4 separate regions of the Homo sapiens genome follow, and regions 1, 2 and 4 are each linked to region 3. The links come from fine-mapping of genetic effects on gene expression. A gene starts in region 3. Each other region holds a variant in brackets. All regions are shown on one strand. Distances are from middle to middle. Region 1 overlaps HMBOX1 (homeobox containing 1). Region 2 overlaps KIF13B (kinesin family member 13B). Region 3 holds the start of HMBOX1 (homeobox containing 1). Region 4 overlaps HMBOX1 (homeobox containing 1).

The links. PIP is the estimated chance that this variant, and not a neighbour inherited with it, causes the effect.
Region 1: its variant is the best candidate, but not a certain one, in a credible set for the expression of HMBOX1 in monocytes (CEDAR, PIP 0.60).
Region 2: its variant is the best candidate, but not a certain one, in a credible set for the expression of HMBOX1 in lung (TOPMed, PIP 0.83).
Region 4: its variant is the best candidate, but not a certain one, in a credible set for the expression of HMBOX1 in monocytes after LPS (Fairfax 2014, PIP 0.59).

What each region holds. Positions count from the first base shown.
Region 1 is chr8:29,050,196-29,052,883 of GRCh38, forward strand. It overlaps HMBOX1 (homeobox containing 1), which reads left to right. Exons shown (of 10, transcript NM_001135726.3): 10 at 823-2,688. The coding sequence ends at 960. Among named protein-coding and RNA genes, the nearest start is that of HMBOX1, 160 kb to the left of the region's middle. The variant TAAAAAAAA/T (reference allele first, on the strand shown) is at 1,703.
Region 2 is chr8:29,170,211-29,172,898 of GRCh38, forward strand. The region is part of intron 10 of KIF13B (kinesin family member 13B); the gene reads right to left. Among named protein-coding and RNA genes, the nearest start is that of KIF13B, 92 kb to the right of the region's middle. The variant T/C (reference allele first, on the strand shown) is at 1,519.
Region 3 is chr8:28,888,974-28,891,661 of GRCh38, forward strand. It overlaps HMBOX1 (homeobox containing 1), which reads left to right and starts at 1,422. Exons shown (of 10, transcript NM_001135726.3): 1 at 1,422-1,705. INTS9 (integrator complex subunit 9) reads right to left here and starts at 996. Exons shown (of 17, transcript NM_018250.4): 1 at 901-996. The coding sequence starts at 909. RefSeq lists enhancers at 779-1,335, 975-1,174, 1,336-1,892 and a silencer at 1,545-1,664.
Region 4 is chr8:29,046,304-29,048,991 of GRCh38, forward strand. It overlaps HMBOX1 (homeobox containing 1), which reads left to right. Exons shown (of 10, transcript NM_001135726.3): 8 at 1,055-1,150; 9 at 2,651-2,688. It also overlaps the pseudogene RNA5SP260. Among named protein-coding and RNA genes, the nearest start is that of HMBOX1, 160 kb to the left of the region's middle. The variant CT/C (reference allele first, on the strand shown) is at 1,261.

The DNA.
Region 1 (2,688 bases), 160 kb after region 3:
CTTAAGGGACTTACCCTTTCCAAAGCTCTTTGATACGGAGTTCCCCTGAAGATGACAGGTGAGAAACATACCCCTTATTTGTAACACCATCTTCAGTGCCTGACGTACATCCTGCAATGCCAGCTTCCTTCACAGCTTTATTGTTTAACACATTGAGCTGCGCGGGGAGGACAGCTTCACACTAGTTCTAGGTAAGACGCCTGCCGCTCCCCTTGCACAGCTGCCTGCAGCAGGAGAGCTCGACACCTTCCTCCCCTTTCTCCCGTAGCCGTTTCTGGCAGTGACATGTGTCCTGTTGTAATGGAGAATTCTTTTTTTCTTTTTTTACAAAAATGCATTTTTTATCTGTAAGATGTAATTGTAAGTTCTGTCTAGTTTTCTCAGTTCAGAGAGGGACCATGAATTCTAATAATCTATTTGTAAGAGCAGCAATCTGGAATTTAATAGCTCACTAGTATGGCCTTCAGTGATTAGTGCTATATTTGTTACAAACAGAAAGATCCAAATTGTTGGTTTTATATCAATCACTGCAGGTTTGATCATCATCACCAGCAATCTTATTAATAGAATGAATAGAATTCTCAGTGATGAAAAACATTTTTTGTGCTTTTTACTTGTTGAATCATAAGATTATCAACTGAAAATCTTTGGACCTATATCCATTCAGTGTCTACTTAAATACAATTTACCTCTATTTTATCATGAGCCCCTCCCCCAGTTTCCTCCCACGAATGTTCTGCCTCCCCTTGCCCCAGCATGTCTCTCTGTGACTAAAGAATTCTTCCAATCCACTAATAACATTTCTTATTTCTGCACATCTAGGATGACAGTACGAGCCATAGTGACCACCAAGACCCCATCTCATTAGCTGTGGAAATGGCAGCAGTCAACCACACTATCTTGGCATTGGCCCGACAAGGAGCCAACGAAATCAAGACAGAGGCCCTGGATGATGACTGATCAGGGAGGTTAAACATGACAAGTTAACTTAGTTTAGACGTAGCACCTTAGCAGACTTTCCTCGGTCCTTAACATGTGTTCTTACAGTATAACTTGCAGTTTCTTGTATGTCAGGTAGCTGTTAGGGTCTTGTTCTGTGAAGATGGCATGGTGCCCTCAGCCTTTGCATATACTCTCTCAGTATTAACTCCCAGTAAATAATAACCAACCAACCAACCAAACTTCCCTCTCCCAGCCCCCGAGGCTAGAAAATCTTGCTGCTCCGTCTTAGCATTCCAAGAAAGTGCTTCCAGGTATTTAGATAGCCCTCAGTTCTCAAATATTAGACTACGTGTAAAATCTTGGGTACCTTTAGATTCTTGTAACACTAGTCTGTACTCCCTTTTCCTTCCCCAAGACTGATAGGATGCAAGCTGAGGTCGTGGCACAGGAATGACAGACACCATTTGGGGAGTATCCACAGAGTCAAAGGAACACTAGAATCCCCACCTCAGCGTGAGGATAATTGATTTCCAGCTGCAATAAGCCGTGCCTCATTATAGCCACACTGTGGCTAGATTATACTTCTTTGGGTGCTGTGCTAAGAATGTCAATGGAAAAAGCCGATCTCAGATTTTGTTTGAAGTTAACATGCCTGACACAGACATCCTTTCCTCTCACAAGCTGTGTGACTTAGTAGATAAAATACTGCCTTCTGCCTTTGGGACCATGATTAAAAACAAAGACAAAAACCAAAAGTCAT[TAAAAAAAA/T]AAAAAAAAAAAACCCAGCTTGAGAGCATTGGAAAAAAAAAATATGAGCTGAATGTCTAATGGATGCTAAGTCCAGTTTTCAGAACCACTGTACATTCCACGGCACAGTTAGCAGTGCCTGCCTGGAAAAGTTTTGGAGGTCATCGTGGAAGTTGCTTTGCCTCCTGTCAGTGTCCCCTTTCCCTGCTACCAAAAAAGTCTTTCAAGGATGGAGCTAAGGTCAAAAATGAGTGAAAAAACTTGCAGTGTTTGTATCCATTAAACGGAAGCCCCCTCACTCTGAGAGGTCACTAGAGGACTTCATAGTGGGGTTGTGCTGCTTATCACAGATGCAGACACTTGCCCAGATAGGAGCAGAGAAAAGCAGGGGACGTTTCCTACTCACATTGTGGCTGTATGAGAACACGATGGGACTGCTTTGCTGTTCTCTTTACTCTGTCCTTGGAGAGGTGTGAAAAGCTGTATTGCTACAGGCAATTTATTTAATAATTGGAAGCCATATTGATAATGGATGTGGTAATATTTGTAAAGTTTAATCTACTTTAAGCGGCAGTAACTAATGGAATTTTTTTCCTTGATCACATATGTAGCACTTTTGTTACTTTTTAAAGATATTTATATTTGATAAATCTTTTTTTCATTTTGAGAACTCAAAATACCAAACAGTGAACTTGCATTCTAAAGTCACCCTGTGATCACCTTGTCATCTAGTAGCAAAATGATGAACTATTCATGCATCAAAGAAAATTACATCTGCTGGCCTTGTATGAAAATGATCTCTTGGCATCCCGATTAAATGACACACTGTCACTGTGGGTAAGAGGAAAGAGCCTTCAATGTAGCAGCACAGGGTGCGCCTGAAAGAGGCACAACTGCTGTGGATTTTCTGCCTCGCTCCATCTCTCCTATGTATAATGAAGCCTTGTTTAAAGGGGCATGTGGGGCTGGATGTTAAGCACGGCTTCTTTTTGTCCGTTA
Region 2 (2,688 bases), 280 kb after region 3:
GTCATAGGAAAGAATTTACTTTTGGAAGTCAGAATTTTTAAAAGCTGAAAGAACTCTGTGAAGACATATAATCCAATTATTTCATTTTACAGATGAGAAAGTGAGACCCAGGAAAACGACAGACTTTTCAAAGGTCACAGAGCTGATTCAGAACAGAGCTGAAATTACTCATTCACTCGACTCTTCCTGGAGTTCACCACTAGGGAGGATGCTGGTAAGTAATACTATATAACAAGGACTAAGATGATAGAGATAAATACAATATGGTCTAAAACAAACAGCAGAGAGCCAAATCTTGAAAGGTTAAGGAAGACTCTCACAGAAAGTGACACTTGAGACCCAAAGATAGAGAAGCATCACCCAGGTAAAGGGAGAGGGGAGAGGAGGGAGGAGAGACTGAAGAGATGGGAGGGGAAAGCATGTTCCAAGTGGAACAAGAGTAAAGTCCTAGAGGCAAGACAACACTCATCACTTAGCTGGAATTTGTAACACCAAGAAGCACAAGATGAACAATAAAAAAAGTAAAAGGGGTCAGCTCATAAAGGACCTTGTAAGTCACACGCCATTAAAGAATTTGGACTCTGTGGCTGGGCGCAGCGGCTCACGCCTGTAATCCCAACACTTTGGGAGGCCAAGGCAGGAGGATCACTTGAGTCCAGAAGTTCAACACCAGCCTGGCCAACATAGTGAGACCCTGTTTATACAAAAAAGAAAAAAAAGGAACTTGGACTTTATCCTAAGGGCCTATAGACAGTTACTGAAAAGACTGAAGGTTAAAAGTATTAATGTAGAAAGATGTTGCAACCTAACCATGGAGAAAGGACTGGACTAAGAAAGCTCGAGGGAAACGACTGTCATCCAGGCGACAGATGAAAAGTGGCCTTCATTAGGGAGGTGGCAGTAGGAACGAAAAGAGGGAGATGAATTAGAAAGATACTCATTATCTGAGCACTCACTACCAGAAGTTACTTCACGTTAAGAGGCCCACATTTAGATGGTTATTCAGAGGACCAAAAATCATCTTAATATGAAATAGTTCTCCAGTGATGACTCAGCGAATGCGTAACCCTCATTTAATGGTTGTTCCATCCTCCCTGGGAGAAGAGCACTCACATCTATTCTGGACCAAATCACCAAGAAAAGCCACAGCTTCTCTCATTCTCAGATGTTACACACATTAAGAGCACAACACAATTACAACGCAAATATGAGGCAGAAAAAAAAAGACGCTGTGAAACTGAAAATGTTATAGAAGATGGGCAATTGTACAAGTTCAATGGAAATTATGTTGAAGAATACTGGAAGTATGCCCATGTCAAACTAGGATCTGGGTGAGTCAGACTAAGAATTTAAGAAGGAAAAAGCAACAGGGACCTAAAACCCACTTTAAAGGAAAAGGATCTCCATTTCAACCAATTTGGAGAGAGCTCTGGGAAAACTGCTTAAGCTCTGGAACATGTTTTGCGAAAAAAAAAAAAAATGCCCCTATTTACGATCTTCTGTGAAGTCCAAATGACG[T/C]TAAAAAAAATCATATAATTTTTTTTTCTTCTTTTTTTTTTTTTTTTGAGATGGAGTCTCACTCTGTCGCCCAGGCTGGAGTGCAGTGGCATGGTCTTGGCTCACTGCAACCTCTACCTCCTGGGTACAATCGATTCTCCTGCCTCAGCCTCCCAGGTAACTGGGATTACAGGTGCACACCACTACTCCCAGCTCATTTCTGTATTTTTAGTAGAGATGGGGTTTCACCATGTTGGCCAGGCTGGTCTCAAACTCCTGGCCTCAGGTGATCTGTCCACCTCGGCCCCCCAAAGTGCTAGGATTACAGGCCTCAGTGAGCCCCATGCCCAGCCAGATCACATATATTTTCTTTTCTTTTTTTTTTTTTTTTGAGATGGAGTCTCACTCCGTCGCCCAGGCTGGAGTGCAGTGGCGTGATCTCGGCTCACTGCAAGCTCCTCCTCCCAGGTTCACACCATTCTCCTGCCTCAGCCTCCCGAGTAGCTGGAACTACAGGCGCCCGCCACCACGCCTGGCTAATTTTTTTGTATTTTTTAGTAGAGACAAGGTTTCACCATGTTAGCCAGGATGGTCTCGATCTCCTGACCTGGCGATCCGCCTGCCTCGGCCTCCCAGAGTGCAGGGATTACAGGTGTGAGCCACCATGCCCAGCCAATCACATACATTTTTAAGGAAAAAGATAATGACAAATATTCAGCAAACACATGAGTTATTTTTAATACATGAAAGTTGCAATGATAACCTAAATTAACTAAACAGCAGATTAAGTGACCTTTTAAAAAATGTTATGGTTTCATTCTTCAAGTTCAAGTACTATGAACAGTTTTTTTCATTATTTTCTATCAAGGACTGGTAATATGAAGTGAGTATCCTTCTAATGAAAATTAACCTTTGATAAGAAGAGCACAGCCTTGGCAAAAACAGCTGCACAGTCAAGTCAGCGATGATTCCAATCCCGATCCTGCCATTCATTAGTTCTGCACCCTCTGTGTCATCTGACCACTGGGAACACCACCCTTTCCCTTCTGAGAAGGAAAGGAGACGATACCCATGAAGCCCTTGGCATGGCACCAGATACTCCTGCAACAGGTGCTCCTGGCCTCCAGGCCAATGAAGCCACTCAGTGATTACCCGTGCCATTTTCACTATGTCGATTAAGTTAACAAAAGA
Region 3 (2,688 bases):
GCTTACTGCAACCTCTGCCTCCCGGGTTCAAGCGATTCTCCTGCCTCAAGTAAAGCTTGACAATAACTTGGCTGCACAAATATGGGTTTTAAAAGGTTGAGAAACAGTGTTTCACACCTGCCTTTCTACACTATGTTATTAACTAATTGAATCGAGTTGGAATAAACTAGTTAGACTTGTGTGCACAATGAGTCAAATGGCTCAAATCAAAGGTCTGAGGAGCCTCCATGAACCAGGTGCTTGAGCTGTGTGATGTTAAGACTTCAGGTATACCGAGCACGCTTCATTCAGCCTTGGCTCATGAAGTCCCTACAGTCTTAGAATGGAATACCATATAACACTTCTCTGCCCATCTAAATCCCATGCAGGGTTTAAGACTCAACTTCTCCACACTCTGACCTCGTCCTGAATTCCAAGGGCAGTGAGGAGTCTATATAACAGGATATTTAATAAGTGATTACGTTCTGCTGGATGTTTTTTACTGTCTGCTTAAATCTAGCCAGTCTCAACAACAGTAGGGAGACAGGATACTCAAGCGCCAATCGAATGGAAACGGATTGTTAACAGCCTATTATAACCCTCACGTGGGAACCAGGACGTCCAAACCTGGTTAACAGAGCCCACAGAGTTCATGGGCGAAGGACTGTGACAGTCAACCTCTTGTCTGAACAAAAAGACCCACTAACGAGTGAAAAAAGACCTCCTGGGAGGGATGGGGTGGGGGAGAGGGAATTCAAACCTTCTCAACAACAAAAAGCAGCTTTCCTTAGCCCACTCCACTTTCCAGCTCAATAATTGCTACCCCTCCCGTGCGACGATTCCCTGCCCAACGTAGGAAAAAAAGAGGTCCAAAAGGTTATAGCATCACCTTTGCCCTCTGACCTAGGAGCGAAGACTCACCAGTTTCATAATGGACTTTTGGTGGTTCAATAGCAGTCACTGAACTCCTCAAACCCAGGAAGCGTCTTCCGGTGCAATCTCCGCCACCTGCCAGCCGAGAGCATCGCGGGACTTGCAGTCTTTCATCCTCACGTCCCTTCCAGGGGAATAATGGGAAATGTAGTCTCCCCTCCAGGCATCATGGGAACTGTGGTCGCCTTTCCTTTTCCTCCCTTTCCTCTCCGAACGCCTCCTTCCGTCAGCTCAAATTCATCCCAGCCGCCAATGCATCCTCCCTCTCCACCCCAGCATGATATCATGTCTTCCTTACGGGCCTGGGGCCCATGGTGTTCTGGGATGTGTAGTCCCGACGGCTCCGACTCCCCTTTCCCTCCTCCCAAAGGGAAGGCGGATGGGCACGGGGCTTGCCGGAAGTTGTAGTTCCCTTGGCCCTCTAGGCGCCGGGCTCCGCAATTTTTCTCAGGGGAGGCAGGAACTACAACTCCCAGGGACGCCCGGCGGCAGCAGGTGGGAGAGGGGCTGTTGATATCAATATGGCGGTTGTCAGCCAGACAAAGACAGTCAGTCTGATGTGATTGAGACAAGGGAGGTTTTTCAGGGGGAGACTGGGAGATAGGGGCCTCCCCTCCCCCTTCTCCTCTTCCTGCGCCGGCCTCAACCCCTCCCCAGTCCCCTCCCGACGGGCGCCCCACGCGGAAGACACCCCTCCCCCTCCCGCCTTCCCTCCTCCCTATCTCAGCCCTTCGTACTGGGACGTTGGGGAGGGGGCTGTGCCGGGCGGAGAGAACTCAGCGAGGATTCTGAGGTGAGTCGAGCGGTTTTGAAGCCGGACTACCTCAAGTCTCTTTCCTCACTTCTTTCTCTTCACTTAAAACAATTTTTTTGGAGGGGTTTTGGGGAGGAAGTGAGCGGACGCTGGGGATGGGTCTCGTAAGCGGCCGGATTGAGAGGAGGGAGGAAGCAGGGGGCTTCCGAGTGGGTGACCCAGACGCGGGCTGTGGGGTGGGGCAGTTCGTGGGGTCCGGTCCTGGAAAGGCGTCGACTGCCCCCCAACTCTTCTGGTTTCCTCTACGATGAGCGGAAGGTTTGAATCCTGGAGGTGGGGTCTCCGGTGTGGAGTTCTGGAAACTGTGAGGTGATTTGCAGGTGTGTTGGTTTGTTTGGGGTGTGTAAGTGTGTTTAAACTGTGTGACGTGTACTTGTGTGCTCTGCTCGTCTTGGAGCGGTGTCTGTAGATGGGAAGTTAGACAGCGCGAGTCCTCGCTCGCTCTGGGCCTGGGCTGAGGGGCGGGCGTGAGGTCCTGGTGCTGGGCGTTTGGGCTGGCGACGTGGTGCGAGGCGGCCGGGCTCAACAACTCGCTTGTGTCCCGTCGCCCGCTCACACTCTGCCACTCGCCTCCGCCCCCTCCCCTGGACGAATCTCCACCCCAAACTCCAGCCACGAGAACTGTAGAGATGGTGTGATGTGGAGATGGATTTTTTGCATCCTCAAGTCGGTAGATAGGTGGGAAAGGAAAAGTGTTTCTTAATATTTTATTCCGGAACCGTGTTTTGGTTACACTATTGGGGCTACTTTGAAAGGCGTCCTCCACCCACCTTCACCCCGAAACAGTAGGTAGAGGTATCTTGTCTTCGTGTGAATTAGATGAATAATTGCTGAAGATTCGGGGGGCCTGGGGTGGGGGTCGGGAGTGCTGGATTGTGTACGCGTCTGTGTGTGTCTACTAAGGAGACGGAATGTCTGTTATGTATCTGGAGATAGGGCGACTTATTTTCGTAGCAGGAGGA
Region 4 (2,688 bases), 160 kb after region 3:
GAAACTTGAACTCTCCCTGGAACATTTTGCCCCCGTATCATCAAGGCCCTAACAAACCTGCTTTCTGGTTTCTTCACCCACTGTGGATTAATAGCCGAAAAACAAAAGGAAAGGTGAGGAGGAAATGTTACAGGGGGGTCTGTATTGGCAAGCATGGTTACTATCCATAAAAAATCACATTGGACTTCAAAGATGGTAAATCTAAAATGCAACTTGAATTGTGCTATGTAGTCCAAACCAGTTACAGTAATGGATAGTCATAGCGGCCTTCAGCCTTCAAGAAAACATGTATAATATCCTCTGTCCTAAGACAGCAGGTAATTAGTTAACATAAGGCCTTAAAGATGTAAGTAAATTTCTGTTGTCTGGATACTTGATAAAGAATAACTTATCTTGGGTTGTTGTGGTGGCTCACGCTTGTAATCCCAATATTTTGGGAGGCCAAGGTGGGCAGATCGCCTGAGCCCAGGAGTTGGAGGCTACCCTGGGCAACAATGGCGAGACCCCATCTCTACAAAAACCACAAAAGTTAGCCTGGTATGGTGGCCTGGGCCTGTAGTCCCAGCTACCTGGGGGGCTGAGGTGGGAGGAGCACTTGAGCCCAGGAGGTCAAGGCTGCAGTGAGCTATAATTGCACCACCGCATTCCAGCCTGGGTAAGAGAATGAGACCCTTTCTCAAAAAAATAAAAAAAGAATATCTTATTCTGATACAATAATGGTAATTAAATGAAGCCCCCATAGTACTGTCACATGGACGTGGATCTGACACCCTAGCCAACTGACTTTGTGGAATTCTCTAATATTATGTATGGCTTTCCGAATTGAAGCATGTTGTGTTACTAGTTGTTGTTTTTGTATTCATTTACATATTTATTCATTCAGTAATTGGGGTGTGTACATGGTACCAGGTAATACTTTAAAAATCCCTCTGCATCTGTAGTTTTGGCAATAAACGTAATCAAAAGCAACAAAATAAAAATATTAGCCCTTAAAACTAGTTTATTCTTGGATCCCAGATATAGATTATCTGAATTTTATTGCATGTATTCACAGGCAAAAAGCTGTCAGATCTGGAAAGAGTTACCTCCCTGAAAGTATATAATTGGTTTGCTAACAGAAGGAAGGAGATCAAGAGGAGAGCCAATATTGGTAATGTATCAGTGAGGCTGCTTTTCTCTTGTGCAGCAGTTGTGAACGTCATGTTTATATTAAGATTAACTTCAGTTTAGAAACTGCAAGTCTAAAGGATCCTAACTTCT[CT/C]TTTTTTTTTTTTTTTTTTTGAGACGGAGTTTCACTCTTGTTGCCCAGGCTGGAGTGCAGTGGCGCGATGTTGGCTGACTGCAACCTCTGCCTCCTGGGTTCAAGTGGTTCTCCTGCCTCAGCCTCCCGAGTAGCTGGGATTATAGGCATGTGCCACCACACCTGGCTAATTTTGTATTTTTAGTAGAGATGGGGTGTCTCTATGTTGGTCAGGCTGGTCTCGAACTCCCGACCTCAGGTGATCCGTCCGCCTCGGCCTCCCAAAATGCTGGGATTACAGGTGTGAGCCACCGTGCCGGATCCTAACTTCTAAGCCTAACAAAAGTTGCCCTAATGTCTTTCATTGTGTTTTTAATAAACCACAGTTAGTATTATTTACACTATTTGTAGTGTAATGGTAATGACATTATTATTTATAAAACTCATTCTTCTTAAAGTTCTAGAATATAGAATTAGACATGGCCCCTGAGCAATTGATTACTCCTGTGGTACATTTGAAAGATACTTGTAAGATCTTGAGAAAGGGAATGTAATACCCAGAATTTCTTCATTATTACTGGACTATGACTTAAATATTAGGAAACAATTGATTAATGGTTTGGAATGAAAGAGACTTAATAGACAAGGAACGCAGCAAAAGGCAGAGATAAAGAGCATTTAAGAAATATGGATTCTTGATGTAATCATTTATGTATATATACACATATCAAAACATCACCTTGTACACCATAAATATATACAATTTTTATTAATTATATTTCAATAAAGCTGAACAGAGAAAACAAAAATGCCAAAAGTGCCCTAGAGGGAACTACGAATACAACTGAAAAAGGAAGAAATAAAGGATTTGTTCCCATTCAAAACTGTAACAGTAATAAATAAGAATAAGAAATTTAAGTTGGTGAGTCAGGTGGGATGTTGGTTTTTAGCTTCTAAAATTGCATTTCATTTCTTCCATCCAAGTACTAACCAGGCCTGACCCTGCTTAGCTTCCAAGATCAGACGAGATCGGGCGCATTGAGCGTGGTATGGGCATAGAATGCATTTCATTTCCTTCCTTTGTAAATACACTTTTTATTCATCAGTACAGTTCTCATATGCTCTATAGAACCCCAAGATAGGAAGACTGTTTAGTTAGTTAGCAAGTATTTATGAAGCACCTAACATGCACAGCAGCAGAGACCCCAGAATGGCAAATGTGTGCCTCCCCTGACCTACATGCAGTTGAATTTCATCCATCTTACAGTCTAAAAGAAACAAATGTAGAGAAATACAGGTTCTTGTTTAATTACATTCTAATTAATTTCCTTAGCACAAAAATTCATTCAGTGTTTCAGCCATTGTGATAAGGTAACAGATAATTTAGGGATCTATTTGCTTTTTTCGAAGAAGCAGCAATCCTGGAGAGTCATGGGATAGATGTGCAG